Homo sapiens: one gene and its partners. The protein of the gene in region 3 interacts with the protein of the main gene of each other region in a pairwise test. Each region holds a gene or a part of one and is shown on either strand. Other genes may lie near its edges.

The links.
Region 1: the proteins of CDK6 (region 3) and CCND2 interact in a two-hybrid assay, tested with the Homo sapiens proteins (2 studies listed by BioGRID, with this or other methods).
Region 2: the proteins of CDK6 (region 3) and APOBEC1 interact in binary tests that used the Homo sapiens proteins (3 or more experiments, as listed by UniProt).

Annotation. Positions count from the first base shown.
Region 1 is NC_000012.12:4,281,971-4,292,927, forward strand, and holds part of CCND2 (G1/S-specific cyclin-D2), read left to right. Parts: intron 1-6,871; coding exon 6,872-7,020; intron 7,021-10,957. UniProt on the Homo sapiens protein: Regulatory component of the cyclin D2-CDK4 (DC) complex that phosphorylates and inhibits members of the retinoblastoma (RB) protein family including RB1 and regulates the cell-cycle during G(1)/S transition.
Region 2 is NC_000012.12:7,654,656-7,665,612, forward strand, and holds part of APOBEC1 (C->U-editing enzyme APOBEC-1), read right to left. Parts: intron 1-10,957. UniProt on the Homo sapiens protein: Cytidine deaminase catalyzing the cytidine to uridine postranscriptional editing of a variety of mRNAs. Form complexes with cofactors that confer differential editing activity and selectivity.
Region 3 is NC_000007.14:92,824,600-92,835,556, reverse strand, and holds part of CDK6 (cyclin-dependent kinase 6), read left to right. Parts: intron 1-1,597; exon of another isoform or gene 1,598-1,754; intron 1,755-1,866; 5' UTR 1,867-2,233; coding exon 2,234-2,466; intron 2,467-10,957. UniProt on the Homo sapiens protein: Serine/threonine-protein kinase involved in the control of the cell cycle and differentiation; promotes G1/S transition. Phosphorylates pRB/RB1 and NPM1.

The DNA of each region.
Region 1 (10,957 bases), on a different chromosome or scaffold from region 3:
TCTTCCTGACTACAGCTCCTAGCATTCCTGTTCCTGGAGTTTCCAAAACTGGGGAAGCAGAACTGAGCCATAGCTTCCCTGGTTGCCGCTCTGCTGATAGAACACCCAGGTCTGCAAGCGAGGAAAGAAGGCCATTGGAGATGACCTGGGTTCGCACTCTGGCACTGGGAGATTGTTGAGATGTGATACCATGCTCGGTGGATGATTCCAGTTAGTCTAGCAGAGCCAATGGCATTGAGTTTACACCTGGCACCGGGTAGGGGGAGGTGCTCACCCTCCCTCTCCAGGCACCCACATCCCCTCTTTCTTCACTAGAAGCCCACCCTAAGATGCTGCACCTTGGTATTTGTGCCACACACGGTAGCCACCCCCAGGCCTCCCCACGCCAAGGCCAGAGCCCCATTGTTGACTAGAACCCATTGTGCTGTCCTAGCCCCTTCCCTGGCTTTACCTACAGGTGTTCCCTCAGATTCCATCGCCAAGTGAGAGGGAGACAGTGGTGGCCCAGAGAAGTTCGATGACTTGGCCCTTGATCTAGAGTGGGAGATTTCGCCTTGATGGGTGCTGGGAAGGAAGAATGGAAACCCGTCTTTCCATCTGCAAGTCTCTGAGCTACCCCTGAAGCCGCGAGGTCATGGGACTGAGGGGGAGTCGTTAGCATGCCCTGTGGGGACAAGCAGCCAGGCAGTGTGGTGCTTGCCATCGCTCTTCCCTCTGGCTGTAAGATGAATGGGTAGCAGGCTGCTCATCGCCCTCCAACCAGCCCCCTCCCCAGCTCCTCCCAGCAGGCCTTGCAGTTGCATGGGCATTCCCTTGCCATGGCAGCCCTGCCCCACAAGGACAGGGTATGCTGGTCCTCTTATGGGGGTGGCAGATGAGGTGCGTGCCCAGTGACGTCCCTGGCCTGTGAACACTCTGGTTCTGGCCCTTTGAACTTCCACCTGACTGCAGGTTGGAGAAGAGAGATGGGGAAAGCCTGACCTGGCCTTCCCTTTCTTCTTCAGCGTCAGAGTGCGTATCTCTCTCCCCCTATTGGTGAACAGAAGCAAAGCCATCACCCCTGCACCCCAAGACCTCGGCCACCATAGCCAAAATGATGGGTGCTAAATGTACTGGGCAGGACCATGTATTCCGTGGTTTTAAACTTACTTAGCTCTGAACTCTTTATTTGGTAAAATCCTACCAAGAAGTGCAGATACCAAGTTGATGAAATGGAGCACTTCTCAGGGCCCATGCCCAGGTGAGGGAGCCCAGCGGGACCCCCAGAGGCTCCCAGGGCATCCTTGGGAGGATAAGCCTTTTGTGCTTGCTGGTGCCGGGGCTGCGGCTGGGACCCAATTCCTTTGATTCCTGAGCCAGAGCGCCACCTTTGGGGCTCTTCTCCCACTTCCGACGTGAAAGGCTGCCCTGTCCTCCTGAGTGGTATATGGGAGGTGACTTTGAGGAGCTGGTCAGCTTCCAGTAAGTTACGAAGAGCTCTGCATCCAGAGTCTCAAAGTCTCATCCGGATCCCAGGCCCAACACTCACAGTGAGTGACATCAGCCAGATCACTTCATCTCCCAAGACTTCATTGATTCACCTGTAAAAGGAGATGTTTGAAACAGATGAATTTCAAGCTCCTTTTTATTAATACCTCACCATCATCACCGCCGTCATAAGCAAGCATGCAGCCCACAGCAGAGCTGCCCCTGGCGCCTGTGGGTCCAGCTGGGATTCCCCTAAGGTGTGTCCTTTGCCTCCACCATTTTGCCAGGAGGGAGGCGGGAATGTCGGGTGTTCCTGGTTATCTGGGCATCGTTCCTTGGCTCGGGTGAACTGCATCTCAATGAATTGTGGAATGTGCTGGGTTAGAGTTGCCAACTTCTCTCTTCCATTCGCTGAGTGTTCATGGGGTTCTTTTCATTCCCCTGTGGGGCTGCACTTTCTCCCAGTTCTGCAAAGCAGCAGGAGGCTTTGGGGACTCGATGATGTCATTTCTGGGACACATACACAACTGGATAGTGACAGATTCTCCAGGAAGCACAGAGCCCTCATTCTTCCTGGCCTGCTTGGCCTGCTCCCTGCATCTGCCTGCAATCCAGGGATGCTGGGCGCCTTTCTCCTCATCCCTCCAGACGCTGGAGAGCATCTCCAGTCGGAACTCCCCACCACAGTCCTGCAGGAAGTACTAGGAGTGAGAGCAGAGGAGGGGCAGGTTGGGGAGGATGCTGGCTGACATTCATTGCTTACCTTGAACCAGGCACTGTGCTTTTACAAGGATTATTTTAAGTGAATCCTCAGAACAGCACTACAACGTGGGTATTGCTGTTGTCATTATTTGCAGATCAGAAAATGAAAACTCAGAGAGGTCAGGTAACTTGCTCATCTTCACACACTTGGTAGGTGGTGGGATGGAGATTCCACCTCCTTCTGATTCCAGAGCTAATACTCTGAACCAGTGAGCTGTGTTCTCCAGAGGTCTGCTTTGGTTGGAGGGGAGCTGGAGCCCTAGGCCCTGGGACGGCCTCTGTTGCCCATGGCAAGGCGTGTGGCTGCTCCTGCTCTCTTCAGATCTCCAGATGCAGCAACCTGGAGAAAGGCCCTCCTGGGTCTGGTGGGGACTGGGGCAGGAGTGGAGGCTGCCCAAGCTCCGTGCACTCCACGTTCCAGCTTGGAGCTTTTTGAGTCTACTCTCCAAATCCTTCCCATCTCCCTGAAGAGTCTTCTGAGAAGTGTCTCAAATGCTCCTCTTCACTCAAGAGCCTCCTTTCTTTTTTTTTTTCTTTTCTTTTTCTTTTTTTTTTTTGAGACAGTCTTGCTCTGTCACCCAGGCTGGAGTGCATGGCACAATCTCTGCTCACTGCAACCTCCAACTCCCGGGTTCAAGTGATTCTCTTGCCCAAGCCTCCAGAATAGCTGGGATTACAGGCGCGTGCCACCATGCCTGGCTAATTTTTGTATTTTTAGTACAGACAGGGTTTCACCGTGTTGGCCAGACTGGTCTCGAACTTCGGACCTCAGGTCATCTGCCCACCTCGGCCTCCCAAAGTGCTAGGATTACACTGTGAGCCACTGCGCCCAGCCTTCAAGAGCCCCCTTTCTTTGAGAAGTTTCTTCAGAAGTTATCCATATAGTAGTACAGACCTAGCCATTATAGCACACCATCCTCTACTATCTAATGCATTGATGCCCAGCCTTAAGAAGTCTGAATATTGTACGTTTTGGGGGGAGTCCTCCATGCTGCCTGGAACAGGGAGGAGCACATTGTCATGAGTCGATCAGAATGGATCGCTGATCGGTTCATTGCCTCTCTCTCTGCTGCAGGAGGAAGGATCTCAGGAAGTCACCAGCATCTCACCTCTCCAGGTGGGCAATTAACGATGGCGAGGGCACACCCTCACCCCTGAGCGTGCCTTCTGCACCAGCATATTGCTTGTTGGCATTTTTGATCAAGAGACTTAACAGACTGCTGAGAAATTTGTACCTGGTTTTTATTTGTTAAAATAATATTACGTACAAATTTTACAAACTCATCTGTGTTTCTCCCACCTAACAGAACAGCTTTTATTTTCCGTGCATCCTTCCAGTTCATCCATAGGCATATATGTATGTATTTACCCATGGTTGTAATCTTCATCGTCGCATGCATGCATGCAATTTGGTTTTCCGCTTCCTTCTTCTGAGTGGATATTGTGACCATTTCTCCATCCTGTCATAGCGACAAAGCTGATGGTTTCCAGGAATGGCTGCATTGGGTAGGTGGAGCTTTCCACAGTTGAGGGTGGGGGTTGGCTAATTACAGCTAGGAAGCTAGTGCACAGATGAAATGATGTTTGATTTTTTTGTTTTTCTCTCTGTTCAGTATCCCCTACCAGTAGAGAGGGGGATGTCCTTGAGAGTGGTCCTGGGGCAGCCCTGGTGCCACGGGGAAGTAGCGCCGCTCTGTGGAGAGGGCTGCTTTGTGAATTTGCCGGCTGGTAGACACCGTGATCCATTCTATTGTCTCCTCATTGTTCTTCTCCTTGGGAGTCATTCCCATTCCAGATCCTCAAGTAAGAGCAAAGTAGACCTGTAAGGCACCTGGGAGGTTATCCTGCTTACTATCTTTAAACTCTTGACCTAAGCCATGTAGGAAGAAACACATTTTATAACACAACTCAGGATACTTGTACAAGTATATCAAACTGATACAAAAGTTTCTCCGAACAATATTTACTCTTAACGACATACGGTGAGCCTGATACTTTCTATCCTACTCTATTTGGTTAAAGGAGAACAACAACAGAAAGTGCTGGTCACGACCCACAAATGCATTTCATGACCCATTAATGAGTTGCAGCTAGAAGTTAGAAAAACACTTATCTCACCCAACCCGTTATTAGACAAATGGGAAACCAAGCCCTTGGAAAGAGGAAGTGACTTGCCCACAGTCCCACGTCTGGACCTAGCTGGAGGGCTGATGTTGCCTCAGTATTTGACTAACCTGGAGGAGAGGTGGGGCATGCTCAGGGATCCCGAGGAAGATGCTCGTCTTCTGTGTAGCGGGCAACAGAGGGCAGCACGGCCGCCGTCCTCGTCTCCAGCGGCGTCTCTCCTCTGGCTGTGGGAACACACTGCTCCTTTGGTGCCACTCTGAGCTGCTGAGAGGCAGTCAAGTTCATGCACATAGTGCTCCCCAATTCTGTGGGATTGGACAGTGTCCCCAAGAGGACTCCCCTGAAAATCTTCTTAGTAAAACAAAAAGGGAGGTAGAGTCTCCCTGTGCAACCGGTGCACCTGTTCCCCCTATGCCTGCTGGCTTCCAGAAGTTCATTCGTATGCCAATAATAAGAGTTGGTTTTGCTAGCAGTGGGACAGCAGAGATGGGCATGTGTGAGGTGTGCTTCCCGGTCTGAGGCCTATGGCAGAGGGAAGGGAGGGCCGGGGATACTTGCCTGCCTCTTCCCTGGCAGATGCTCCCACCCGGGCCTTTGTGGGCCCAGGGCCATGGGCCGGCTGCCCCGCTTGTGTTATGAATGTCACAGGGGGGAGCTAACGAGGTTATTGGGCAGAGAAACACTCTCCTGTGACCCATGTGGAAGAGACCTACAGCAGAGCAAGAGGCAGGGAGGCTGGCTTTGTCACACTGTTCATGGCGACAGAGAAGGCGTAGGAGGGGCGGGTGGACAGCAGGCGTGGGCGCAGCACCATTATATACGTCCCTCAAGAGGTGGAGATGGTGAGAGGGCAATGGAGAAAAAGCCAAGGAGACAGGCAGATGGCCAGGTTTGCTCTGCGTTCATGATGGGAGGGGAGGGCTGTGCTTGGCTCAGGGATCCACGGTGTCTAACAATGCTGCTAACTTGATGCTGGGGCAATGGGCTGACCATTAAAAGAGCTGCTGTAGAAAGTGTGTTTGTAATAGAGTGTGTACAGGAGGAAGGGGAAATAGGAGAGGGGCTGGTTTTTGTAGATTTAACCTGATTGTTTTTGCTGTAAGTTGAAGGGTGACCCACGGTTCCCTGTATGCTGTGTCTCCTGCCCCCACGTGCCCCTTCCATGTCTACACACAGTAAGCTCACTAGAGCAATGCTAAAACGAGAAAGAGTACGCTTTGGAAGACTTGCTGCACTCCAGGACCGTCACTAGCGTGATGGCTGCAACTATACCCACCCTAATATCTGTCAACACGAGCAGGGGCAACTTAAACTCTCAAAAGTCTCAGGGTTCTCACCCATACCATTAGGGTGACGCTCGTGTGCATCTTCTGTGGCTGATGGGTAAATTAAACAGGACGTAATGTGTAGCGTACTGCATGTGGTGGTCATTGGTAGCTGTCAGCAGCTGTAACAGGAGAAGTTGGCTGTCTTTATTTCCCCTCGATGGACCAAGCAGCTGCTGGATCATGGCCACCCAGCCCCTCTGAAGGAGTGCTCGGAGGAACACAAGGGGGCTGGTCTTCCAAGAGGAGCCCTCTAGCATGGCAGTGGACGGGGTTCAAGCCCCTCTGATTTATTATCCTCATTCTGCACTTCCCTGTAGCAAGTCACATTTTTTTCTCTTAGCAATAAAATGGGGCCTTCAGTCTCATGAGTCATAACATCGAAACCGAGTCACCCATCTGATTCGGATGCAATGATTAATCTTCAGTGCTTAGTTAGAGCCCTATGTTAGGGTTAGAATCCTCTGCCCTAATGTTCTGAGGGTTCTTGCTGTTGGGCCAGAGGTTGGGAACTGGGTGGAACTCAGCCCCCACTCGCCCACTCCCTGCATTGCTGCTTCTCTCATTTCCTTTTTTAGATCAAACCTTTTTTTTTTTTTTTTGGGTGGGGGTCATATTAATCCTCAATGCCTGTCCAGAGACTATAACAAGATCCCATCTGAATTAGCATTATGCATAGATTTTGCCCGTTTCTCCCATCTCCTTGTACTTTCCCTCCTTCTCACATCTGGAGCCCCTGGTCTGTCCTGCTTGCATGGCCCATGGGGTACCTTGTCTGCACTGGTCTCAGGCATTCTCTGCTCTGTTCCCACCATCACCTCTAGAGGAGACTATGACTCGCTCACCTTGCTCCCCCCACCAGGGTCAAGAATGTTAACTCAGACATGCTTAATATGACTGGGATCTGGGGATTGGGGACCTTGAATCCTCTGTGCATTCATTGTGTGCGCTTAGATAAGCTGTCTTCCTTCCCTGCCTCAGTCTCCTTCGTTTAATCTGGAACAGCCATGGTGATGGCAAATAAACACAGGCTCCTTGTGAAAGAACTCGAGGGAGGACATGCCTGTAGGGCACGGGGTCACTCGCGCCGCTGACCTGCTGCCGTCCTGTTTCTGAGTCTCTGCAGTCTCGGGAGCTCCAGGATCCAAATTCGTTCTGTGCCCTGACCTTCTGCCTCTCATTCCTTGCAGACTTTAAGTTTGCCATGTACCCACCGTCGATGATCGCAACTGGAAGTGTGGGAGCAGCCATCTGTGGGCTCCAGCAGGATGAGGAAGTGAGCTCGCTCACTTGTGATGCCCTGACTGAGCTGCTGGCTAAGATCACCAACACAGACGTGGTAGGTGGCCACCACCTTCTTGGCTAAGTCCAGATGTCTCTTCTCAGCTCAGGGAAGGAGACGACGGATTTGATTATGTTGTGTCAGAGGTATTTTTCTGGTTTGTTTCCTAAGATCGACATCCAAGGGAGTGCAAAGTTCAGCAGGTGACACCCCCTCTTAAGGTTCTGAAAAGCTGTGCACGGGAAAATACGGAAGAAAACTCAGCAAGCAGATGAAGGGGGTGGGGGTGGGAGGGCTGTTTACCGATGTTCCTTTATGGCGTGGGCTTCTCAGTGGGTCTGAATTGTTGCTTCATTGCCATATTTGTACACGCTGCCAGGCTGCCTCTGCCCGGCAGCGAAGAGCTGCCGTGTCTGCTTTCACACGCTGAGGCTGTAAGGCGCACAGAGGAGAAAGGAGAGCCAGGACTCAGCTGCAGTGGATGGAGCAGACACACAAGAGGTGCCCCACTGTGAGAACGGTGTCCGTCCCTGGCAAACCTCTCGACCCCTCCCCGCTCTCTCTTCCCTTTTGTTCAATGCAGTAATGGATTACAAAGTGCTTTCAAAAGACAAAGTGCCATACAAACTCAAGAAACTATTATTAGCTACGGAGCTTCCCCATTCTGTGTGCCCTGTGGACGGCCCAGAGGCTGTTAACTTCCTGTTGCCAGAATTTGGAGCTCCTGAGAAGAAAGGTTTTGAGAGAGACCAGGGTCAAGTGAGCCTCTGAATTCAATCAGCAGGAAGCTGCAGTCCTAGCCCGTCCGAGACAGGATGGTGCCAAGAGGTCAGAGAGGCCATTCCTTCGTTTTCCACGGGCAGGACAGGGACTGAAGTAACCAGCCAGGAGCGGGGTGGGCAGTGGCTGAGCTGGGGCTAGAACCCCCAGGCTCCGACTGCCCCCTGGAAACTTCCCACTCCACCCTTGTTGCCGCTCCTGGGATCTTTTGGTTTGAAAAAAAACCCTGGGGTTTAAAGTCAACCTGAGAGAGGGGTGTTGGCCCTGAGCCCTCATGCATCACCATGGAGAGGCTGAAGAATGCTGGGCACTTCACGATGACACCCTCTGGATGGTCCGGGGGGATTCAGATGCCCTCTGCGGGCTTTTATTGAGTTAAGGGATCATGTGGTTTATAGGCCTATGGCTGAGGCCTGCACGAGGGATACGGGACAGGTTAAACCTCAGAGAGCCCACGGCTGCAGCTCGCCGGCCTCCTCGCCCGCCCACCTGGATTTTCCCTGGCATTTGTTCCCAGCTCAGAGAAATGGCGCAGGGAGATGCTGACGGAGCAAATCCGGGGTCCTCCTCTGAGATAGTTCGTAGATATGGTTTTAAAATGCGGGCTCCAAACATACGCTTTTTAAACGAGGACTCCAGAACACAGACTGAAAACCTCCCTCCAGTGCAGCATGAAGAATGCTTTTCTAATCCTCCAGAGGAAAATCGTGGACGGGACTTAACGTTTATAGAAATGGTACGCTTTCCTCCTTTTCTGAATGTCTCCAATTAAGGCTGCCTTACAAATAGGACTCTCAGCCAGTTTAAGACAAGCCCTTCCTCAATGCCTGGAGACAAAAATGTCAGTGACAGGAGTTGGAAGCGGCCACCCCCCTCCTCCTGCCCCCAGGCATTGTAACCTTTTCCCCCGATGTTGATAGACCTGCTCTGATGGGCTGACCACCCTACCGGCTCCAGCCTTTTCCCACCTCCCTTTGTCCCCCGTTACTGATCTCACATGGACAGTGGTGGAAATTTCCCTCCTGGGAGTTGCTGCTGAGTCTCTTGGCTTTTCGAGACCGCAGGCAAGTCAGTCCGTCATCTCATCTGGGGAAACTGTTTGCCTTTTTCTGATACTACGTAGCCAGTCCATTTAAGTCAGCTGGCCAACTCTGTTAAATGGATATGAAGTGGGTACGAAGCTGGTTTAGGGGTGTCCTCCTATAAATCCTAACTGTTGGTCAAGTTGATACCTCATTTCTATAATGGGCACACGCCGTGTTTCCTAACTGGGGCTGCCTGTGTGTGCCTCATTCACACCGGTGGACCTGGGTTGAACATGTTCATATTTAAAAACCAAGAGTGAACGCGGTGAAATGTACAATTCATAACACTTTTTCAAAGAAAAATCTGAGCCCTCAGGAAGTTCCAGGCTTACCTCTGGCACCCCGGAGGCTGGTTCGCTCTCCCTGAAAATGTTTTTAGTGGAAAGGTTCAAGCAGCTCTGGGCTAGGCTGTGTGTGTGTGTGTGTGTGTGTGTGTTTATGCACCTTTCCAAGTGCTAAATCTCCTCCCATCCATCAGCCTGTGTTCTCTGAAAAGCTGACGCTCAGAGGGAAGAAAAATAAAAGGACTAGAATTTAGAACACATTAGTGTTTGGAGGGAGGTGAGTTGTGCTTCCTGAGCTCTGTTTACCATTTCACGAGTCACGAAGTGGTGTATTTCCTTCATTCGTTTCTGGAAGTCTTTACTGAAGGCCCAGTTGTTGCTAGAAGTTGGGGTGGATGGTGGCATCTGGGAAATAGAGGATGAGATTCCTGCCTTCAAGGAACTTAGCAGTTGTATGATGAAGCAAGAGTAAAGCGTGCAAAACCCTAGCAAATTAAGAACGTAAACAAAGGTGTGCTACGTAACGTGTTACGAACCCTAAATGCAGTAGGAAATCAACCCAAAAGAAGGAGCTCATCAGGCCTAACGTAGAATGCCGGCCTCCCAGCAGAGAAAACTTGGTGATAGAAACTGTTCTTAGAGTAGAGAAACAAAATGTATGGGCACGCAATGGAATATTATTCAACCTTAAAAAGAAATGAAATTCCGATCCATGTTATAACATGGGCGAACCTTGAAAATACTATGTTAAGTGAAACGAGCCAGACACAAAAAGACAAATACTGTATGATTCCACTTATACCAGGTACCTGGAATAGTCAAATTCGTAGAGACAGAAAGTAGAATAGAGGTTCCCAGGAGTCTGGGGAGAGGAGAGGATGGGGAGTTAGTGTTTAATGCGTACGGAGTTTCAGTTTGGGATGATGAAAACAATTCTGTAGATGGAGAGTTCTGATGGCCACACAGCAGTGTGAATGTACTTAATGCCACTGTACATTTAAAAGTGGCTGAAAAGGGAAATTTGACATTATGTGTATTTATGATAGTAAAATGTGTGTGTGTATATATGTATATACACACACATACATAAATGGATATATATATATGTATGTATGTATGTCTGAAACATTCTCGGGCCACGCTATGAAATGCCCATAGGTTGATGTTGAGCTCTTCCCTGGAAAAGTGAAATACACAGGACCACATTTTGCCCCCTGGCCCTAGTGCATTGACAAACGGGAATCAGGAAGAGCTGACAGTTTCCCCCAGAGCCCCTGAAGTTATATGTCAGCTCCTACACACCTTGCTGTTTCTGATTTCTTCAAGCTTGCAATGCTCTCTGTTACTTTGGGGGTTAGGTCGTGGGTTGTCGGGGATCGAGCTGTGGAAAGAGGGTCCCCCTGATTCTTGTGAGATGGCCAGGCGAGTCTCTGTGGTTCATTGGCCAGGAGCAGATAGCTTTGATATGAGGGACGCATGCGGCTCTGAGAAAGTCGGCCTTTGTTGCTCCGTCTGGTTGCCAAAATAAACCAGAACGCTTCATTCCAAAGAGAAAGCTGAGTGAGGGGCCTGACAGTTTTATAGGGAATAAACGTCTCAGAGAGTGGTATATTTTAAATACTTTTTCCTTCCAATCGTAAGAGTTGCTAAAAACAGCCAGAGAGGCAGTTTGGCTGTAGGGGGGACGTCTATTGGGGGTGTCCAGTGCCTGGGTAGGTTTGAGAGGGGAGGGTGCCACTGGCCTGGGTCCCCGGTGACCATGGCCCTGCTTCCTTGGGCTGAATCGGGGTCCTCTTCCATCCCCTCTGCACACTAGTCGGGCTGCGTGCCAGCATTGATCTCACT
Region 2 (10,957 bases), on a different chromosome or scaffold from region 3:
TCAAACAACACTCAAATATCAAATGAGTTGCTAAGAAAAAGTGCTCTATTATTCCAAACCTCCAAATCATCTCAGAAAATGGAATTTGAAGATTCTCTCATGGATTAATTGTATTGGACCAGCTCATTGTACCCAAGAAAAGCAAGATTTTTAAGGACTCTGCCAAAATCTCTTTTCCCAGATGCCCAATCCCAAACAAGGTAGTCTGCCTTAAGGCTTCAACAAAAATGATTAAGCACAATGGGAAAGTCACTTCTTAAAGCCTCTTAGAGGCCGGGTGCGGTGGCTCACGCCTGTAATTCTAGCACTTTGGGAGACCGAGGCAGGTGGTTCACCTGAGGTCAGGAGTTTGAGACCAGCCTGGCCAACATGGTGAAACCCTGTCTCTACCAAAAATACAAAAATTAGCCAGGTGTGATTGCGGGCACCTATAATCCCAGCTACTCGGGTGGCTGAGGCAGGAGAATCACTTGAACCTGGGGAGAGGAGGTTGCAGTGAGCCAAGATCGCACCATTGCACTCCAGCCTGGGCAAAAGAGCAAAACTCTGTCTCAAAAATAAAAATTAAAAATAGGCCCGGTGTGGTGGCTCACGCCTGTAATCCCAGCACTTTGGGAGGCTGAGGCGGGCAGATCATCTGAGGTCGGGAGTTCCAGACTAGCCTGACCAACATGGAGAAACCGCATCTCTACTAAAAATACAAAAAAAAATTGGCTGGGCGTGGTGGCGCATGCCTGTAATCCCAGCTACTTGGGAGGCTGAGGCAGGAGAATTGCTTGAACCCAGGAGGTGGAGGTTGCAGTGAGCCGAGATCACGCCACTGCACTCTAGCCTGAGTGACAGAGCAAGACTCCTTAAAAAAAAAAAAAGAAAGAAAGAAATGGAAATACAGGAAATGTTATGACACGATGGGTAGAGAAGCCTAATGTAGACATGGGCATGGACAGCTTTGAGGGGCCTCACAGGGAGTGGTGCAGACCATGGTGGTGGAGTAGTTTGGAAAATAGAAAAGGAGGTGGCATTGGTGGGGCTTTGATTTTATATATATAGAGAGAGAGTGCAGTGGCTTATACCTATAATCCCAGCTTTTTGAGATGCCAAGGCAGAAGGATCTCTTGAAGCCAGAAATTTGAGACCAGCCTGGGCAACACAGTGAGACCCCATTCCTACAAAATGTAAAATTAGCAGGGTGTGTTAGCACACACCTGTGGCTACTTGAGTGGCTGAGGAGGGAGGATCACTAGAGCCCAGGAGTTCCAGGTTACTGTGAGCTATGATTATGTCACTGTACATAGCCTGGGTGATACAGTGAGACCCTGTCTCTTAAAAAATTAAAATTTTATTTCATTTGTTATTTTTTTTGTGGAGGCGTGTTCTCTCTGTGTTGCCCAGGTTGGTCTCAAACTCCTGAGCTCAAGAGATCCTCCTGCTTCAGCCTCCCAAAGTGCTGGGATTACAGGCATGATTCACCATGCCTAGGCCAAATTTTTTTTTTTTAAAGAAAGAAATAAGGAAATAAATGGAAGATGTGTATTTGAGAATTTATATACCGCAGGCCTGCTGCTCCCCTGCATGACCCTGGTCAGATTACTCCATGGTTATGAAATCATGCCTCACCTGGCCTACAAACTAATCAGTGTCACTCCGTGGAAGAAAGTCTGGGCTGGAAAGGACAGAGGTTCAGTTTCCTGGGGTGCAGTGTGAGTGGCCCCGGCTTTGGAGTGATCTAAGCAGTACTTTGTTTAGATGGCTCTCCTGGCCCTTATCATCAGAGGAATATGGACCCCGCACTCTAGAGGAGGAAGTAAAACCAGGCAAAACCACGTCCTCCATTCAGACTCTCAAAGGTGGTTACAAACTTAAAATGGTCCATGAATCTCAGTCTAGTCTAAAGAAGCAACACAGTGTTGCAATCAAGAGCCAAGGCTCTAGGGTCAGAGAAAAATGGGTTATAATCCCAGTTTAGCCAATTACTTGCTCTAACACATTTGGCAAGTTTCCTAACCTCTCTAGACCTCAGTTTCCCCATTTGTCAAATGTAGACCCTAAGATTGCCTATTCCACAAGGTTGTCGGAAGACTCACGTAACACAATGAATGGAAAACATTTGCAAGGTGCCTGACGCAGCAGATGCTTCATAAACGTTAAGCACTGTTATTACGGCAGCCTTTCAGAGGGTTAGAAAGATGCCTGTTTTATGTTTATTTCAATGGCATGAACATCATTGACATTAAATGTCAACTTGGGAATTTTGAGGAGGTGAGAGCCTCCTGTGTAAGAATACTTCTCTTTCTTATCTCTACTATTCGGTTTGCCATGCATATGCTTATGGATTTTTAGTTTGGGTTGCAAAAATACCCACTTGGTGTCCTAGTGTGTTGTATATACGTGTGTGTGTGTGTGTGTGTGTGTGTGTGTGTGTGTGTAAATAGCTATTTAACAGAGGAAAAAGGGAACTAATAATACTGGTAACATAAACATCTCAATTACATATTTGGCATCCCAGCCAGAATCATTTGAACCAACTGCATTTCGTACTAAGTTACTACCCTTGAATTGAGCCTCATGTGTATGTTTCCTCGCCATGACTGCCAAATTGTTAGCTGAATGTCTAGTTGCATAACATAGAACCTAAGTTGAGCCAGTCCTTGGAATATGTCTCCAAAGTCAGAACACTTTTGAAGTGACTCTGAGGCTTTTTGCACCTTTAAGGCTGGAGAGAGGTGGATTGCACACTTTCTGACGTTTTATTTTTCATATAGAGGGCTAGCCATATACTGTGAAGTATGCTTTCTACGGTAGGCCCAGGCCATTCCCATGAAAAGAAAGTGAGCAAGGGCTGTGGAAAACTGAAGATAAGCCTGCATCTAGAGCTACTAAATTCCTTAAAATAAAAACAATCAATAACAACAAAACAAAATTAAAAAACAAACCAGGCTGTAGGCAGTGACTCACACCTGTAATCCCAGCACTTTGGGAGGCCAAGGCAAGATGGTCGCTTAAGCCTAAGATATCAAGGCCAGCCTGGGTAAAATGGGGAAATTTCCGTCTCTACAAAAAGATACAGAAGTTTAACCAGCTGTAGTGGTGCATGCCTGTAGTCCCAGCTACTAGGAAAGCTGAGGTGGGATAATCACTTGAGCCCAGGAGGTTGAGGCTGCAGTGAGCCATGAGCATGCCACTGCACTCCAGCAGGGGCAAGAGAGACAGACCCTGTCTCAAAAAAAGATAATAATAATTAAACTAAAATTATAAATAAATAACAAAAAAAATACCCAAAACTATTTCCTGGAAAAGAATTGAAGTCTATGACAAAAATGCATGGACTGATCAAAAGTCCCTAATTTCTTCCAATTTCCGAAATAGAATCACCTGGAAATTGATTTGTTCTGTTTTGTTTTGTTTTGTTTTGTTTTGTTTTGTTTTGAGACAGAACCTCACTCCACCACCCAGGCTGGAGTCCAGTGGTGCAATCTTGGCTCACTGTAAACTTTGCCTCCAGGGTTCAAGTGATTCTCGTGCCTGAGCCTCCCAAGTAGCTGGGATTACAGGCATGTGTCACCACACCCGGCTAACTTTTGTATTTTTAGTAGAGACGGGGTTTCACCATCTTGGCCAGGCTGGTCTCAAACTCCTGGCCTCATGTGATCTGCCCCTCTCAGCATCTCAAAGTGCTGGGATTACAGGCGTGAGCCACCGTGCCCGGCCAAAATTGGGTTTTTATTTCAGGTTTGATAGATGATTAAATAGGTGTTGGAGTCCTTGGTTACAGGTACATTATTTTTCAGACTCAGGCTGCGTTTTGAGAAAGGCGATACAGGAATTGGAGACTAAAGATTTTGATTTATGGCTTGATTACCCAACAGAGGTGTCACAGTGCCAGATGGTCTCAGAGTCAGTGGCATGAAGGAAAAAGGAAGTCTGTGAGACCTCACTGTAAGAGGCTCATGACAATAAAATTGAGTCTGAGAACTCTTCTCAAGCTAATATTTTTAAATAATAATCACTTGGCACATATTGATTGAAAATTTAGGCCAGGCGCGGTGGCTGACTTTGGGAGGCTGAGGCAGGTGGATCACCTTAGGTCAGGAGTTTGAGACCAGCCTGACCAACATGGCGAAACCCCGTCTCTACTAAAAATACAAAAATTAGCCGGGTGTGGTGGCACATGCCTGTAATCCCAGCTACTTGGGAGGCCGAGGCACAAGAATCACTTGAATCTGTGAGGCAGAGGTTGCGGTGAGCCCAGATCATGCCGTTGCACTCCAGCCTGGGCAACGAGAGCAAAACTCCATGTCAAAAGAAAAAAAAAAAAAGCACTTCCACCAAAAAAAGAAAATTTAAAAATATATTTATAGGCCGGGCGCGGTGGCTCATGCCTGTAATCCCAGCACTTTGGGAGGCTGAGGCAGGCAGATCACCTGAGGTCAGGTGTTCGAGACCAGCCTGACCAACATGGAGAAACCCTGTCTCTACTAAAAATACAAAATTAGCTGGGTGTGGTGGCGCATGCCTGTAATCCCAGCTACTCAGGAAGCTGAGGCAGGAGAATTGCTTGAACCCAGGAGGTGGAGGTTGTAGTGAGCCGAGATCGCGCCATTGCACTCCAGCCTGGGCAACAAGAGTGAAACTCCCTCTCAAAAAAAAAAAAAAAAAAAAAAAAAAAAATATATATATATATATATATATATATATGTTTATATTTGAAATTTAAAAATCACACACACACACACACACACAAAAGGAACTACCGGCAACCTGGAGTACTTGTGACCAACTCACCATTTAATTTGCACCAGGGAGATACAAATTAAAACCACAATGAGATATTCCTACACACCTATCAGAATGGCTATATGTGTGTGTATAGGTGTGCGTGCACAGACACGCATGCAAAACACCAAATGCTGGTAAGGATGCAGAGAAACTGAATCTGTCATACTTTGCTGGTGGGAATGTAAACTGGTACAGCCATACTGGAAAACAGTTTGCAAATTTATTTTAAAAAAGAAAAACTAAAAATGCAACTACTGGCCAGGCACAGCGGCTCATGCCTGTAATCCCAGCACTTTGGGAGGCCGAGGTGGGCGGATCATGAGGTCAGGAGATCGAGACCATCCTGGCTAACACGGTGAAAACCCAACTCTACTAAAAATACAAAAAACTGGCCAGGCGTGGTGGCGGGCGCCTGTAGTCCCAGCTACTCGGGAGGCTGAGGCAGGAGAATGGCGTGAACCTGGAAGGCAGAGCTTGCAGTGAGCCGAGATCAAGCCACTGCACTCCAGCCTGGGCGACAGAGCGAGACTACGTCTCAAAAAAATAAATAAATAAAATAAAATAAAGTTTCAATTTAAAGAAAGGGTATTTGGGCCGGGTGCGGTGGCTCACGCCTGTAATCCCAACACTTGGGAGGCTGAGGCGGGTGGTTCACAAGGTCAAGGGTTCAAGACTAGCCTGGGCAACATGGTGAAACCCCGTCTCTACTAAAAATACAAAAATTAGCCAGGTGTGGTGGCAGGCACCTGTAATCCCTGCTATTCTGGAGGCTGAGACAGGAGAATTGCTTGAACCCGGGAGGCAGAGGTTGCAGTGAGCAGAGATCATGCCACTGCCCTCCAGCTTGGGTGACAGAGCAAGACTCTGTCTCAAAAAAAGAAAGGAAGGAAGGAAGGAAGGAAGGGAAGGAAGGAAGGAAGGAAGGAAGGAAGGAAGGAAGGAAGGAAAGAAAGAAAGAAAGAAAGAAAGAAAGAAAGAAAGAGAGGGTATTTGGGCCAGGGACAGTGGCTCACACCTGTAATCCCAGCACTTTGGGAGGCCTAGGTGGGTGGATCACCTGAGGGTCAGGAGTTCGAGACCAGCCTAACATGGTGAAACCCCGTCTCTAATAAATACAAAAAATTAGCCAGGCATGGTGGCCCATGCTTGTAATCCCAGCTACTCAGGAGGCCGAGGCACAAGAATCGCTTGAACCCGGGAGGCGGAGCTTGCAGTGAGCCAAGAATGTGCCACTGCACTCCACCCTTGGTGACAGAATGAGATTCCATCTAAAAAAAAAAAAAAAAAGGGTATTTGATGGAAAACTATACAGCTATACAAAAGAATGAAATCATAAATCATGTCCTTTGCAGCAACATAGATGCAGCTGGAGACCATTATCCTAAGCAAATTAACACAGAAACAGAAAACCAAATATTGCATGTTCTCACTTATAAGTGGGAGCTAAACCTTGGGTACACATGGACATAAAGACAGGAACAGCCAGGCATGGTGGCTCACACCTCTAATCCCAGCACTTTGGGAGGCGGAGGCGGGTGGATCACAAGGTCAGGAGATCGAGACCATCCTGGCTAACATGGTGAAATCCCGTCTGTACTAAAAATACAAAAAAAAAAAAAAAAAAATTAGCCTGGTGTGGTGGCAGGCACCTATAGTTCCAGCTACTCGGGAGGCTGCAGCAGGAGAATGGCGTGAACCCGGGAGGCGGAGCTTGCAGTGAGCCAAATTTGCGCCACTGCACTCCAGCCTGGGTGATAGAGCGAGACTCCGTCTCAAAAAAAAAAAAAAAAAAAAGACGGGAACAATAGACACTGGAAAAGTCCAAAAGGACTGAGGGAGGGAGAGGGGAAAGAGCTGAAAAACTTCCCATTGGGTACTATGTTCACTATCTCGGTAGCAGAGTCAATACAAGCCCAAACCTCAGCATCACACAATATATACCCTTGTAACAAATCTGCACGTGTACCCCATGAATCTGAAATAAAAATTATAATTAAAAAATAAGAAAGAGTATTTGGTAGTGTGGAGAGAAGCCAGGATATCTTTGATGACAGATGATAGATAGATAGATAGATAGATAGATAGATAGATAGATATCTCTTTATAATTGTAATTATACATATTTTAAACCACAACTCGAGAGGAAGGAGAAAAGATAACTGAATGAGTAATAAGTGTAAAAAGATACTTGTAAAGAACATATGGAAAGATCCTATTGAACCAGCAAAAAAGGACCAGGCTCCAACTGGAGCCAAGTGGTTCCTGAAGACATTTACAGGGCAGTCCTGCTACATAAGGGACCTCAAGTGGACACAGATTCTCCCTTTGAATCGTGCTAACCTGGAAGGGGAAAGAGAAAAAAGCAACAATTGCTGCTCTTAGGTATAGAACCTAATAGTAGGTCCAGCACTAGAATTGAGAGATGGGAAGTAACAATTGATGTGGAAATGAGCAGTCATCTAAATTCCCAATGCACAGGGCTTCAGGGAGTGGGGATTATCTTGATCTCTCCCTTAGTCAAAAGAGTCCCTGGCTGGGTGCCATAGCTCATGCCTATAATCCCAACACTTCAGGAGGCTGAGGCGGGAGGATTGCTTGAGGCTAGGAAATTGAGACTACCGTAAGCAACACAGCAAGACCCCGTCTCTAAAAACAAAACAAAACAAAACCAAACCTTTTTTAAATTAGCCGGGCATGGTGGTGTGCACCAGTAGTCCCCACTGCTCAGAAGGCTGAAGTGGGAGGATCACTTGAGCCCAGGAGTTCGAGGCTACAGTGAGCCATGATCGCCATTGCACTCCAGCCTGGGCGACAGAGCAAGACGTTGTCTTTAAAAAATAAAAAAAATTTAAAAATTTAAAAAAAGACGGCCGGGTACGGTGGATCATGCCTGTAATCCCAGCACTTTTGGGAGGCCAAGGCGGGTGGATCACCTGAGTTCAGGAGTTTGAAACCAGCCTGGCCAATATGGCAAAACCCTGTCTCTACTAAAAATACAAAAATTAGCCGGGCATGTTGGCACGTGCCTGTAATCCCAGCTATTCGGGAGGCTGAGGCAGGAGAATCACTTGAACCTGGGAGGTGGAGGTTACAGTAAGCCAAGATCACACCATTGCACTCTAGCCTGGGCGACAGAGCGAGAGAGACTCCATCTCAAAAAAAAAGGAAGAAGAAAAGTACTGGAAGGAGACAAAAGGTGGTGGGGGCACCATATCGACCATATCAGAGATGGCAGTCAGAGAAGACATCTATAAAGAGGGACATTAAAGCTGAGACCTGAATGTAAATTTAGAGAGCAAGACATGTGGACGTCGGGGAAGGGGAGAGCTTTCCAAGCACAGGGAACACCAGGTGCAAACGACCTGAAGTGTGGACCTTGACTTGTTCAAGGAAGAGCAAGCAAGTCAGCTTGGCTGGGTCGGAGTGATCAAGACCTGCAATGGAGGGAGATGAGCAATGGAGGGGGTAAGCCACAGGGCCTTACCAGCTCTGGATAGTATGCTAAGTGTAAGAAGCCATTAGAGAGTATGGGGATGATTCAAGGGAGAGTACTGAATTTTAGAGACCTGCGCCTCTCAGGACTCAGAGGCTTGGGGATGTTCCTGGCAATAAAATGGGCGCTGACAAGGCCTGAACCTCTAAGGGTGATTTGGGGAGATGCAGGCAAGAAATTCATCCCACGCTCCTGGCCAAACCTTAACTCGCAGGTGCTATTTTTGAACAGAGAAGAGTCACAGGCTCTGGAAGACACTTCCTTTAAAACAGAGCATGCTTTACCCTAGGCTGTGTGTGTACCTGTTTGTGTGTGTTACTTTTTATGCATTTGCACTGGATGGTAGAGGAGTTGTAGAAAGGACTTGGGCATGGCATGGTTTTTTTGCAGAGAGTGGTTCTAGCTGGGGAGAAGAACTAAAATGAGAAATTAGCCAGATATCTAGGAAATAGGACGAAGTCAGGAAACACTATTCCAAGTGTGACCTGAAGAACAAATCTCTTACTTTTAAAGGAGGAATGGGGGATTTGAGCATTGGGAGGAAGGAGGAAGGGGGTGGCTGGCACGTTGGAATGAGCTCTTCTCAGATCTTAGTGCAAATTGGGGCCCTTGAACCAGTAATCTACTCCGAGGGAGCCTTACATAAACAGAGGCCACATCATAGGAAAAAGGCATTTGATGATGGGAAGACACTTTCTCTGAAAGAGCTGAAGCAGCAGTGAGAAGTTCAGAAAGGGACGGTGAGACATATGCTGTGTCTACACTGATCAATATTATTCCTGGGATGCAAAGACAAGGATACCAGCCACATGACTGGGGACAGTTTGAGGTATAGAACACACCACCTTCATAAGAAAAGTCCAGGGAAGGTATTAGCTACTACAATCAAATAATGTGTTTGGTCTTTCCCCCAGTATGCCACTTAAAAAAGAATTTTTTTTTTTTTCCCGAGATGGAGTTTTGCTCTTGTTGCCCAGGCTGGAGTGCAATGGCGCGATCTCGGCTCACTGCAACCTCCGCCTCCCTGGTTCAAGTGATTCTCCTGCCTTGGCCTCCCAAGTAGCGGGATTACAGGCATGTGCTACCGTGCCCAGCTAATTTTGTATTTTTAATAGAGACGTTGTTTCTCCATGTTGGTCAGGCTGGTCTCAAACTCCCTACCTCAGGTGATCCGCCTGCCTTGACCTCCCAAAGTGCTGGGATTACAGGTGTGAGCCATCACACCTGACCTTAAAAAAGAATTCTAACAGATGAAGAACATAAAGGAGAAAATAAATTGTTACTTCAACTCCAAACTGATATCTATATTACCTTCTGCCCCATCACACTCACACTATTGCAATAGTCTTCTAACTGGTCTCCTTGCTTCCAGTCCAAAACCCATCACATGTCAAGTAAATGTGTCTAAAGCACTATTTTAGTCATATCTCTGTGCTATTCATAAATTCTCCAAAGATATTCCCTCTACCATAAAGAAAAACTTTCATTCCTTGAGCCTGGCATTCGAAGTCCTCTATAGTATAATAACACTTCAAATTTGCTTTCTGGTCTTACTGCAAATTGTTTACATAAATTTTTTGTAGCCTAACCAGTTTATTCATTATATTCCAGACACAAGTCTCTATAAAAGCTTTTAAATTCTGTTCATCAATAGGATTCAATCAACCTGGAATCTCCTCTTCTTTGTCGATCCAAAGTCTGCCCTTCTGGCCTGGCATGGTGGCTTACACCTGTAATCCCAGTACTTTGGGAGGCCGAGGCTAGTGGATCACTTGAGCCCAGGAGTTCAAGACCAGCCTGAGCAATAAAGCAAGACCTCATCTCTACAAAAAAATTAGCAGGGCTGGTGGCCCATGCCTGTTGTCCCAGCTACCCAGGAAGGTGAGGCGGGAGGATCTCTTGAGCCCAGGAGGTCAAGACAGCAGTGAGCAGTGATCACACCACTGTACTCCAGCCTAGGCAACAGGGCGAGTCTTAAAAAAAAAAAAAAAAAAATTTGGTTAGGCATGGTGGCTCATGCCTGTATTCCTAGTACTTTGAGAGACCAAGGGTGGAGAATTGCTTGAGCCCAGGAGTTCCAGACCAGCCTGGGCGAAGTAGTGAACCCACCCGCTAGTCTCTAAAAACAAAATAAGATAAAAATTTTTTTAGGTCTACACTTCTCTTAGAATCCAGCTCAAATCCTAGCTCAGCTGAAATTACTTCCTTCAGCCTGAAGTGTTCTTCCTCTCCCATGCATTTTTCTAACACTGACTGTGCACAAATTTATCAATTAGTTATAGTCAATTCATTTGTCAATTAGCACATTGTTCTCATGCTATCACGTCTGTTGTTACCTTAAACTGTTATTTAAACAGTTGTACTTTTACTTAACTTTTTTTTTATTTTTGTGAGACAGAGTCTTGCTCTGTTGCCCAGGCTGGAGTGCAGTGGCGTGATCTCAGGTCACTGCAACCTCCGCCTCCTGTGTTCAAGTGATCCTCCTGCCTCAGCCTCCCGAGTAGCTGGGACTACAGGCATGCGCCACCATGCCTGGCTAATTTTTGTATTTTTAGTACAGATAGGGTTTCACCATGTTGGCCAGGCTGGTCTCAAACCCTGGGCCTCAAGTGATCCACCCTCCTTGGACTCCCAAAGTGCTGGGATTACAGGTGTGAGCCACAGCGCCTGGCTACTTAATTTTTTATC
Region 3 (10,957 bases):
AGCACTATGTCAAACTTTTTTTGAAATGGGGTCAAGTCACATTCAGCCAGCGTGGGAAAGCAACAACAACAACAAAAAAAAGTGGAGGAGAGGGGGGGAAAAGGCATTGCTGCTCCCGTTTCTCTCCGCCGAAGCCGACCGTCTGGGGGGCGAGTGGGGGGAGAGCCAGGGCAGTGCGGGGCCCGGCGGGGGCAGCAGGCGCAGTTCCCTGCGGGGGTGGGACGTCCCCGACGCTTCCTTCGCTGCGGAGCCCGGGGCTAGACTCGAGCGGGAGGGGGTTGGGGGGATGCAGGACAGGCGGGTTGGGCGGCCGGCGGCGGCTCCCCGGCTACCTGTGTGGCCCTCGACCTGGCTCAGACCCCCGGGCAGTCCCTGGGGGCTCTTTCCTCGGCTTTTAAGGAAAGTTCTGAATGTAGTGAGTGCCAGAAGCTCTGCTCTCGCCGCGGTCCGCTCCACCCGCTCATCGTGGGGGTCGCGCCGTTTGTTTAATTCCTGGCAAAAGGCGAGCGGGCCAGCGGTTGCGAGGCAGGTAATTCCGAGGTGCCCCGGGAATTCCGGACATGCGGCCGTCGTGGTGAAAGTCCTGCCGAGGCCGCGGCGGCCCTGGAGGAGGGAGGCCCCCTAGGTCCCAGATAGCTGCTGAATGGGGAGGGAAAGTTAGGGTACCCTACTCTGGCGCTTTGTTGTGCAGAGGGCTCCGGGGGCGTCCGGCTGCAGACTGGACCGGGCCTTTAGCCGGAGGGGGAATGGGGCAGCCACCTCTGCTACCTACAGCGGGGAGGTCCTGGGAATGGGAAAAGGTTCGCGAGTCCGGGCCCCGAGGACAGAGACCTTCTCTCTCACCCCTGGAGGCGCAGGATTTAACCCCCCACCCCCCACCCTTTGAAAGGGAGGTTGAGTTTTGCTCAGGTCGAAATCAGTTTAAAACTTAAGGACGAGGCGCGATTATGCTATCCCCTTCCTGAAGTTATTCTTTAAGGAGACGACAAGCGAAATTGTGGCGAACACCCCTTTCTCCCACCCTTGGGATCCCGTGGGGGACGGTGTCTCCCCTCCCCCAGGACCGCTCGCTCGCCCACCCCCGATAAGCCCCAACCCTCCCCGACCAGATGGCTGGTCTTCCCAAGGTTTCCACCAGGGAGGTCCTCCCAGCCGGAGAGAGAATTCCGTTTCCAACCGAGACTCCTTTACCCCAAAAAGACCATTTGTGTATGCGAGTCGTTTTTAAATGTCTCCTCGTAGAAAAACTGAAAGTAGAAAGAAAGGAAGCAATTTCTGAGCAGATGTCTGACCACCCCTTCTCGCACACTCCCAGCATCGGGTTACAGGGTCCTGGGAGCCCCCACCCACATTCTGCGGCCCCACACGGATGGACCCACAGTCCTTCCGCTCCAGCTTGTGCGCGACCCCTGAACGCCCTCCGGCACCCCTGGACCCCGTCTCCCTGCACGTCCGGGCCTCAGGAGGCGGGGAGGGTAGCGGCGCAACACAATGATATAGGGATAAATATTAAGCCGTGACATTGACGTGCCCGGCGCCTCCCCTCCCCCGCGCTCCCGGCACACTCTGGGCTGCTCGGCACGCCCCCTCCCGTTCCACTGCGTCCCGCGCCGCTCGCTCATCCCCGAGGGGCCCCTGCAACCTCTCCGCGCGAAGACGGCTTCAGCCCTGCAGGGAAAGAAAAGTAACTTCGCTTTTCTCGGAGGAACCAGGAAGGATTAAGCGGCTTGGGAGAGGGCAGGAGCGCGCGGAGGGTAGCGATGGAGGCTTCGTAAAGGAGGAGGAGGGGAGTCTGGAGGAACCCCGAGGAAGGCTTCTGGGCTGTCTGATTGCACTTTCTTCTTATCCTCCCGTCTCCTCCTTTAGGTGCAATGATTCTGGACTGAGACGCGCTTGGGCAGAGGCTATGTAATCGTGTCTGTGTTGAGGACTTCGCTTCGAGGAGGGAAGAGGAGGGATCGGCTCGCTCCTCCGGCGGCGGCGGCGGCGGCGACTCTGCAGGCGGAGTTTCGCGGCGGCGGCACCAGGGTTACGCCAGCCCCGCGGGGAGGTCTCTCCATCCAGCTTCTGCAGCGGCGAAAGCCCCAGCGCCCGAGCGCCTGAGCCGGCGGGGAGCAAGTAAAGCTAGACCGATCTCCGGGGAGCCCCGGAGTAGGCGAGCGGCGGCCGCCAGCTAGTTGAGCGCACCCCCCGCCCGCCCCAGCGGCGCCGCGGCGGGCGGCGTCCAGGCGGCATGGAGAAGGACGGCCTGTGCCGCGCTGACCAGCAGTACGAATGCGTGGCGGAGATCGGGGAGGGCGCCTATGGGAAGGTGTTCAAGGCCCGCGACTTGAAGAACGGAGGCCGTTTCGTGGCGTTGAAGCGCGTGCGGGTGCAGACCGGCGAGGAGGGCATGCCGCTCTCCACCATCCGCGAGGTGGCGGTGCTGAGGCACCTGGAGACCTTCGAGCACCCCAACGTGGTCAGGTGAGCCAGGGAGCTGCGCCCTCGCCATCTGGGGCCTCGCGCGCGCGGGGAGGGCCGAGCCGGGAATCCTCAGGCCCAGAAAGGTGCGGGGCAGAGGGCGACTGGGGAGGTCCTGCGCGACCTGTTGGTCTTACAGAGTGAGAGTTAAGTTTTGTCGACAGAGCCGCGAGCCAGAGCCGGTGACCTTGCCAGACAGCGAGCCGAAAGACAAGTCAAAAAAACATGACCTGAGCAGGCTTCCCTGCAGCTGTGCAACTTAGAAGCGTTTTCTCCCTGCCCACCCTGAAGGAGGGTCTGGGGGAAGTGGGTGCGTTTTAGGGACAGGATAAGCCAACCTGAGACATGCCCCGCTAGCCCCCGCATATTTTTCGTGGCCATGCCGTTGGGGAATTTTTGAAAGACAGAGTAGGTGAGACTGGAGAATGAGGATGCCGTGTGATAATCAGTGGGAACTTTATGGGTGGAGCCAAGTGTAAATCAGGTTAACAAGATGCAGAAACATCATAATATTTTTGCCAGTCATACTCTCAGTTTCTCTTTATTAAAGTTGCGTAGTAAGAATGACTCCTGGTGGTCTAAGGAGTTTGAGTGCTGATGCCCAATCTCAAACAGCGTCATAAAAATTTCTTCCAAAACTGTTATCCCTGTGTCTGTTTTACTTTATATCTCTGGGCGGACATACTCTTTAGACTAATTCTCCAAAGGGTTAAATGTGAGTCCAAGATGTGGTATGGTTAGATCATAAATGTTCTGCCCATGCTTTTCCCAGATGGATTGTGCGAGTGGGTGGGGAGACAGCAGTTCTTACTCTCTCCTGTGTGGTAACCAGTATTAAATGAAAATGTGTGACTTAGGATAATGGTGTTTTCTTAGTGATCCTGGAATTTCCCCATTGTGTGGTTGACATTGTTTGGTTGTGTCATCCTTTTCTTTTTTAAACAGAGATGCATAGCTTTACATTGAAAAGGAATGCCTAGAAACTTCTGCAAATTGGGTTGTGATTTTACCTTTCTCGATCTTGAGAAAATGTGTAGCAGAAATATCTTTTTTCTCATCCATTTAGGGCTTCTGTTCAACAAATACATGCCTACTGTGTGCGCTGAGGATGAAATGATGTAAATAAGCACAGCTAAATATTTTTGTAAAAAGTCAAACAATTTAACATTAGTCATCAAAGTGGAGAGACCCAAGACTGACCTTTGAAATACCAAACTCTCTACAGACTCAGAGAGACCAAATATCTACAGAATCTTCTTGGGAGGTTTTAACTTGTCTCCTCTTATCCCAGGCTGGTGATTTGTGCGGTGCTTTGTTCCCAACGCAGTTTAGACTCAAGCTAGAAGGCATCAAAGAATCATAAATATATAAATAAGGCAGTAAATGGTTATAAAGTTAAGACCGCATTATACCTCGGCCTAGCTAGTGAAGGAGAATGAGTGTTTTAGAAGATGAGATTATATATAAAAACCTATAGATGACTTTTTTTCATGTGTATTTTATTTGTTAAAAACAACAAAATCCGTTTTTGGGGCTCTTTGTGATATTGGAGGGAAAAGGGGAGGGTATATTTAGCCCCCTGTAACTCAGCTGTCGTCCTAGGGGAATCACCTAATACATCCCGAAGGATGAATTCCACCACTACAATTTTAAGACGGAAGTTCTTGTTTTATTTTGTCTGTTACCTATGGAGTATCCAGTTAAGGGTGCTTATCATGTATATGAATGAATAGTGTCCTTCCAAACGTAGAGGTACTACAGAGGCACCCCTGTATAACACTATTGTTTACAAAGCTTACGCCATTCTTATACCAGAGGCACACTTTCTGCCATTGTGCTTGTAGATTTTGTCTGATCCATCCTATTCTCTTGATTTATCCTCCTGAGATTGATGTGTTTCTAGACGTTTCTAACTGACCCATGACTTGGATTCTGTACTGTGAATTTCAGGAGGATATTCTTATGAACTGAAGACAAAGGCATTGTTTTCTAAAATTATTTTTACGTGTTAAGGTGATGATGGCACCTACCTGTTAAAGTCGTGAGAATAAAATGAGATGGCGTATGTGAAAGCACTTTGTAAATTTGAAAGTACTTCAGATATCTAAAGGATTGTTTGCGTTTCAGCAGATTGATGGTCTCTTGCCATGGAGCAGCTTCACAGGGAGGGGTCAATTCACCTGACCTTTTTTGTAGAACAAATCATATTCAAACCCAGACATTACAGGCTCTGGAACCAAGAAGATCCTTGAGGATAATTAGCCTGTAAGATGTCAGAAAAGACTCTCAGTCACGAGCCATGAAATTCAGTGATACTTGAGGAAATTATTGATGATGTCACCCTCATGAGCTACAGATCTTCATTCCCTTTTTGTTTCCTTCCTGTTTCTTCTCTTCTGCCTCTGCCTTGAAACAACCATTGGTCCCCATGACTTGCTTGGCCAGACTAAGAATTCTGGATTTTAGAGGCTGCGAATATTTGCTCAGACAGGGTCAGGAAATAAGGACAGTTGACAGCAATTCTTTTCTTTCCAAGGGAGAGTTGTCAAAGTTGGGTCCCCAAACCTGTGATTTACTATTGCCCCTGGGATTAGTTTTACAGTCTTAAGCCTGGTTCTTTAATGGTTTCTTAAAAGGGCAGATGCTTTTATAAGTACCTTCAAGTCATAAGTAATTGATCATAATTATAGGCCCTCCCCCACAGATAGTTAAGCCTCTAAGCTAACAGGAGCATAATAAACATATTAGTTTTTTCAAAAGTTTAAGATTTAATTTTGATGGATTTGCCAGAAAAGCTGACTTGTTATTGCTGGCACTGGTACTGCCTGCATGCACAGGGATAATGACTTGAAATTCTTGCTTACCTGCATTTGATGTATCCCAGGCCCTCGCCTGATCAGCCAGTGAGTGTCTGGGAAGTAAATTTACTCTTTTTTTACATTTGGTAATCCCAAATCCTGGAACCTTTGCCAGAATAGGACTTCACTGTGAACCTGTATTGGAGTTTCTGCACTGCACAAATGGATCCTGTTTGAACAGCCTGAACTAAAAACAATAGAGATAAAATTATAGCATGTTTTGTCAGCAGTCTGTTCATTCACCAAATATTTACTGAGGGTCCACTATGTGCCAGACTCTTCTAGAAGGTGGGGATATAGCAATGAACAAGCCTGGAAAAGTCTCCGCACTTGTAGAACTTGCCTTGTAATGAGATGAGCAGTTCTTTCTTCTCTTTAAAAATTTACTCATCTTTGTTTTAATTGCCTTGTTTTGTTATACTTAACCTAACCAGTTTTATAGAACAACTGATATTTCTGATAATTCGGTTACCAGGAATTTCCTGATTGAGTAGGCAACATAACCAAAAGGCTAATCAGAATCAAGTGCTTTTTGAAGATTAAATTTTACCTCCCTAACATAGGGATTGATCTATATGAGATACTGACACATAGCTAATATAAGTGAACATTTGAGCTCCATTTATTCAAAAAGGATTTAGGAAGGGCATATGCTTTAAAAACCATGGGGCTAGGTGCTGGGAAAGATACCAGGGTAAATCATACCTAGCTACTCTCCTGAAGCAGTTCTTCCCATGTTTGAAGGAATAAGATGATCACCATAACCCTGATACATGATAGGATCATGTGCTGTAAGAAAGATACAAGCCAGTGCTTACCTGTATTGTTTCTAGGGATTATATTTATTAGTGTAACAGTAAAAGCAATTCAAATTCAAGTATTGGCTCTGGAAACTAAAAGTCATTACATATCAGTGAATAAACTTGTGATGTTTAAATATTATAATTAGAATAGTCACTGCTTTAAAAACAAAACAAAAAACCCAAAGAAAAGGCTGTAAAGCTTAATGATTATTCAAGGAGAGTTTTCTAATTTTCTCTCTTTTTTAAAGATCTTAGTAATATATTGCATAAAAGGTGAGTAAAAATGTGATTTTCTCTGGAAAACCTAATTGTTAACAGGGTAAAAGAAACATGACATATTTGACTCTGTAAAGCCAGGTCTTCAATTGGATTAGTTCATGAGAATCCTTCTGAATAAAATTGCTATTTGTGTGGTTGAATAATACATTTACTAGGGCTTTTTTCAATAAAAGCAGGAAAAGCAGGAGTTTAATTCTCCTTTTAAATATCAGTATGTTAAAAGTATGTTTGTTCTTTCTGTCTCTGAGAGTTCCTTGAAAAGTTTCTGATTTTTCAAGGTTGTTTAGTAAATAAACATTTTCACAATGGTATTCTGCTCATTTTTTGTTCCTACAGAAGAACTTGATAATGCTGAATTTTTGACATTGCAGTTATATCCCTTTTATACAACCACTATCAACATAGAATTATTAGAATCTCTCTATGGAATCAAGGACAAAAAAGGTCTATAAGAGGAAAACTTGTATAAACTTGAATATCTTTGAGGATATTTTCCTATGTTTAAGACATGGGTAAATGAATATCTATGCAAATAGGTTCCTATTAAAAATAAATTATTTCTTTTTTAAAAAAACAAATGTCTCACTATTAATGATTTCTTAGGAAAGTTTTTTAAGAAGGAAACACAGCATACATGCAGCCTATCATTGTAAAACCATGGATATTAGGGTTGGAAGACACTCTGGAGGTCAAGCTACTTGTCTGTCATGCCATTTTAAAGTTATTGACTTGTTCTTAAAACTAAGTAGCAATTTTTGTTTGTTTGTTTGATGGAAGCAGTTAAATCGGGTGAGTACATTTCTAGTTTGGAAAAAATGAACTGTATGTAGACAAAAGTGACAGTTTGCCAGGAATGAATGACATAACGATAAATGAATAAAAATTCAGTAAATTCCTGAATTCTGCAGTATGCCATACTGAAGTATATCTCTACAAGAGTATTATTCCAGTAAATTCTTCTTTTAAGGAAGTTGTGCTATAATTATGATAATTTAAATTAATTATAATAATTTAAAATAGCTATAGTTAAATGATGATACAGGTAAATTATGCAGGTAATTCATTAATAATATTGAATTCATTTTAGACAAAGAGGAGTAGGAAAAATTGAAACACTTAGTACTTGTCTGATGAATGAAATATTACATAATGTGGCTCTGGCACATTATGTAACATTCTGGTTAATGAAATAAAAACATCATAATACTTAAAAATTAGATGGCATAATAACCATCAGACACATAAGCAAATATGTGTTTTCCATGCCTTCTGAGGAACTAATCACACTATTGTTCTTTCTCATGAGGTTCAGATGAGTTGCTCTGTCTTCATAGGAAGTAAATTAATTGTGAGCTTCTTGATGTAACAGAACACAGCAGAGATGAAATCTGGGTGTCAGTGAATTGTTAACAGGAGAAGTTAGTGTGTATGATGTTGGGCTTTGTCCAAGATCCAGGAGGCAGCACTGAAAACGCACCGGTGGTTGATAACAAGCATACTTACATGAAGGTCACTATTTGAGTGATGATCCATAGATGCTAGGTTTGGTGGAGCAGGCAGGCCAGCAATCAGAGAGATTTTTCCAAGAGCTGCTGGGTAGTTTTCTTGAATATCACCAGTTTGCTGCCATACCTGATTTTTATTTTACCAGCTGCACATGTAGCTGCTCTTGCCTGAGAGGTGAACCGGAGGGACTGCAAGGCATGTGGCAGGAATCTATGCAAGTGTACAGTTGTAGTCTGGAAGTCCATTTGAGTCAGGATTATTATTAAACATTTTTGACCATCTCCTTTGTCTATAGTAGTTTGCCGAAATTTGGATATCTACTGGCTTTGTAATTTAAGTAGCCACTTAAATTATTCCTATTCTCTGGCCTTCCTAAAGGATTTAGTTCAGTAGAATTAGAATCACAGCATAAGGATTTTTTTAATTGGAAGAAGTCTTAGATTTAACCTAGTGCAACCCCCTTTGATCTGTTTTATAATAATAAAATTTGAGTTGTTTTATGAATGCAAAAAATTATCTCACTGTTAGTGAACAGTTTTATTCTGTGATTGTATGCATTGTAGATATAAACTGATTGAGGATGGCTAAGATTCAGACAGAGGTTTATATTAAACATTGGTAAGACAGGATGACTGATGGTCATTGGATATACCAGAAAAAAATCCCTTGAGATGTAAAAGTATTTTCAGTTTAGTGACTTTATGTTTGCTGACTTGAGAACCAGGATTGTGTATTTTATATCCATAAATAACATGGTGTCCATAACCATTGGTTAACCCGTATATGTTTCCTGATTGATTGAAATTTTAAACCCCTTAGATAAGCACTTTTCATCGTTTTAGAGTTGTATACTGCATTAGCAAGTATCTTGGACTATTGACATTGGGAGATCTGTGGGTATTAACTGTAAGGCATACACATGTGAAGTCTATTTAGTAAGAGTCTTCAAATACTTACTCATATTTAAACTTTTCCTGACTATGCATTTTTTATCTTCAATATTGTACTTGCTTTGGCTTTGACAGGATATTCTCATGTTCTTCCTCTGTATTTGTTAACATGTATCCTACAGACAGATGGACTACTCCATTTGCCCTAATGGATTTCTTGCCATCCACCTCTATTACTTTAATTTGAACAGATCTCTGAATGTGCACTTGGTACCTCTCCTGCACCACTCTCCACCTGTTGAAATTCTGCTTATCCTTCAGGGCCAACCTCAAATGTCACTTTCTTTGTTCTGTATTCCTTAATACCTCGATTTGGATAACATTTCTGCTTCCTTTGAGTCCTGGTAACTTTGGACCTCCTTTATGGCACTTAGCTTGTATCTGTCCCCTTATATTATTTCTGTTATGTAAGATGGAATGTTAACTCCCATGACAGCCCTCTTCTGACTCTCTACTCTTTCACACCCTATTTGTAAGCTCTTTAAGGCAGAGAGTGTCTTGTGATTACATTCGTTTATATCCTGTATCCATTGGATATAAGGTGAATACGTAACAAGTGAGTGAAATCATTGAAAAGGGGTCCAGTTATAAAGGAAGACACCATATGAATTATTTCTATCATGTGAAATAATGTTAATACTAAGGAGTGTCAAGGAGGGAGAACGGATCTGCATATTGGATTACACTTATTGGGATTCCTGGGAAATAATTTAGGAAATACTGAAAAAAGGAAGTTTCATTTTTGTCTTACTCCAATCTACATAGTTTATATGAAAGTTTAAGTATAATTCATTCTTATAGTTAACTGTGCAACTTTGGACTTAATTTATATACTGCAAAGAAGACATTAACATTAGGAAATGAGCATACATTCAGCAAAAGCTGAAAATGATTTGAACATTTCAAATGTAAGAAAGTAAGGTATTATAAATACATTTTGATCAATTGCTTGAGTTCTTTTATTTTTCCCATTAATTTTAATTTCTTTGGCTTTCAATAGTGGAAAACCTGTTAGCAGAATTAGGTAAAACCTTCCTAATAATTTCTATAAAAGATGATGATTCTGAATTTCATTTGAGCCTTGTCTTCTACTCCTCTTCATAATTTGTGTACAGAGAATTTGGATTCCATCTTGACAAACTGGTAGGTTTAATTAAGAAGTATACTTCCAGTTTGAATTCATTCCAGTTTCTTAAGACACATATGGTTGGGGTGTGTGTGTGTGTGTGTGTGTGTGCACGCATGTGCATGCAGAACAGTGGAGTACAAGATTCTTGAAAGAAGGGACTGTGTTGTCTTGTTCCTTGCAGTATCCCAAGCATTTAGCATGATGTCTGGTGTCTTGTAACCCTGAATAAGTATTTCTAAATGACAGAATATGCGCCATTTAGAAATTCAGAATTTAATTTTTTTTAGTTAGAAATGAGTAATCATGTCTGAAAATACAGGTGAGGTCTCTGGCATTCAGCAAGTATTTATGAGTATCTGTTATATTCAACGCTTTGTTAAATGGGATTAAGGCAGTAGTCACAAAAAGTGCATATTGAAATGTTTACCCAAAAAATGGTATGTGGTCTGCAATTTGTTTCACAATGGGGTAGAGATGCAATAAGAATGAACTATGAGTTGATCACTGTTGAAACTGTGGAGTTTTATTGTACTAGTCTCTCTGCATTTATATATGTTTGAAATTTTCCATAATAAGTTTTTCAAATGTTCCTGCTTGTGGGCTAGGAGTCAGAAAACTGATTCTTATCCTGATTCCTCTGCTTATTATTTAATAGTTGAGTAACCTAGGGTAAATTCCTCATGTCTCTTGGCTGCCATATCCCCACAATAAAAATAGAAATTACTACTGCTCTTTAGACCTTAGTGGTTTACTCTGATCAAATGAAATTATGTATACAAAGATCCAATATTATACAAATATAAGGTATTATTAACAAAATGAATTCCTGCTTTCAAGTAGTTTATAATTTCCTGGAAGAAACTGACATGTACACAGATATCTGTATTACTGATTGGTAGCACTTTCATTCCACCTCACGTTGTGAAAGTATGAATGGAGCTAGGTACTTCTGAAAAGATGTGTATTGAG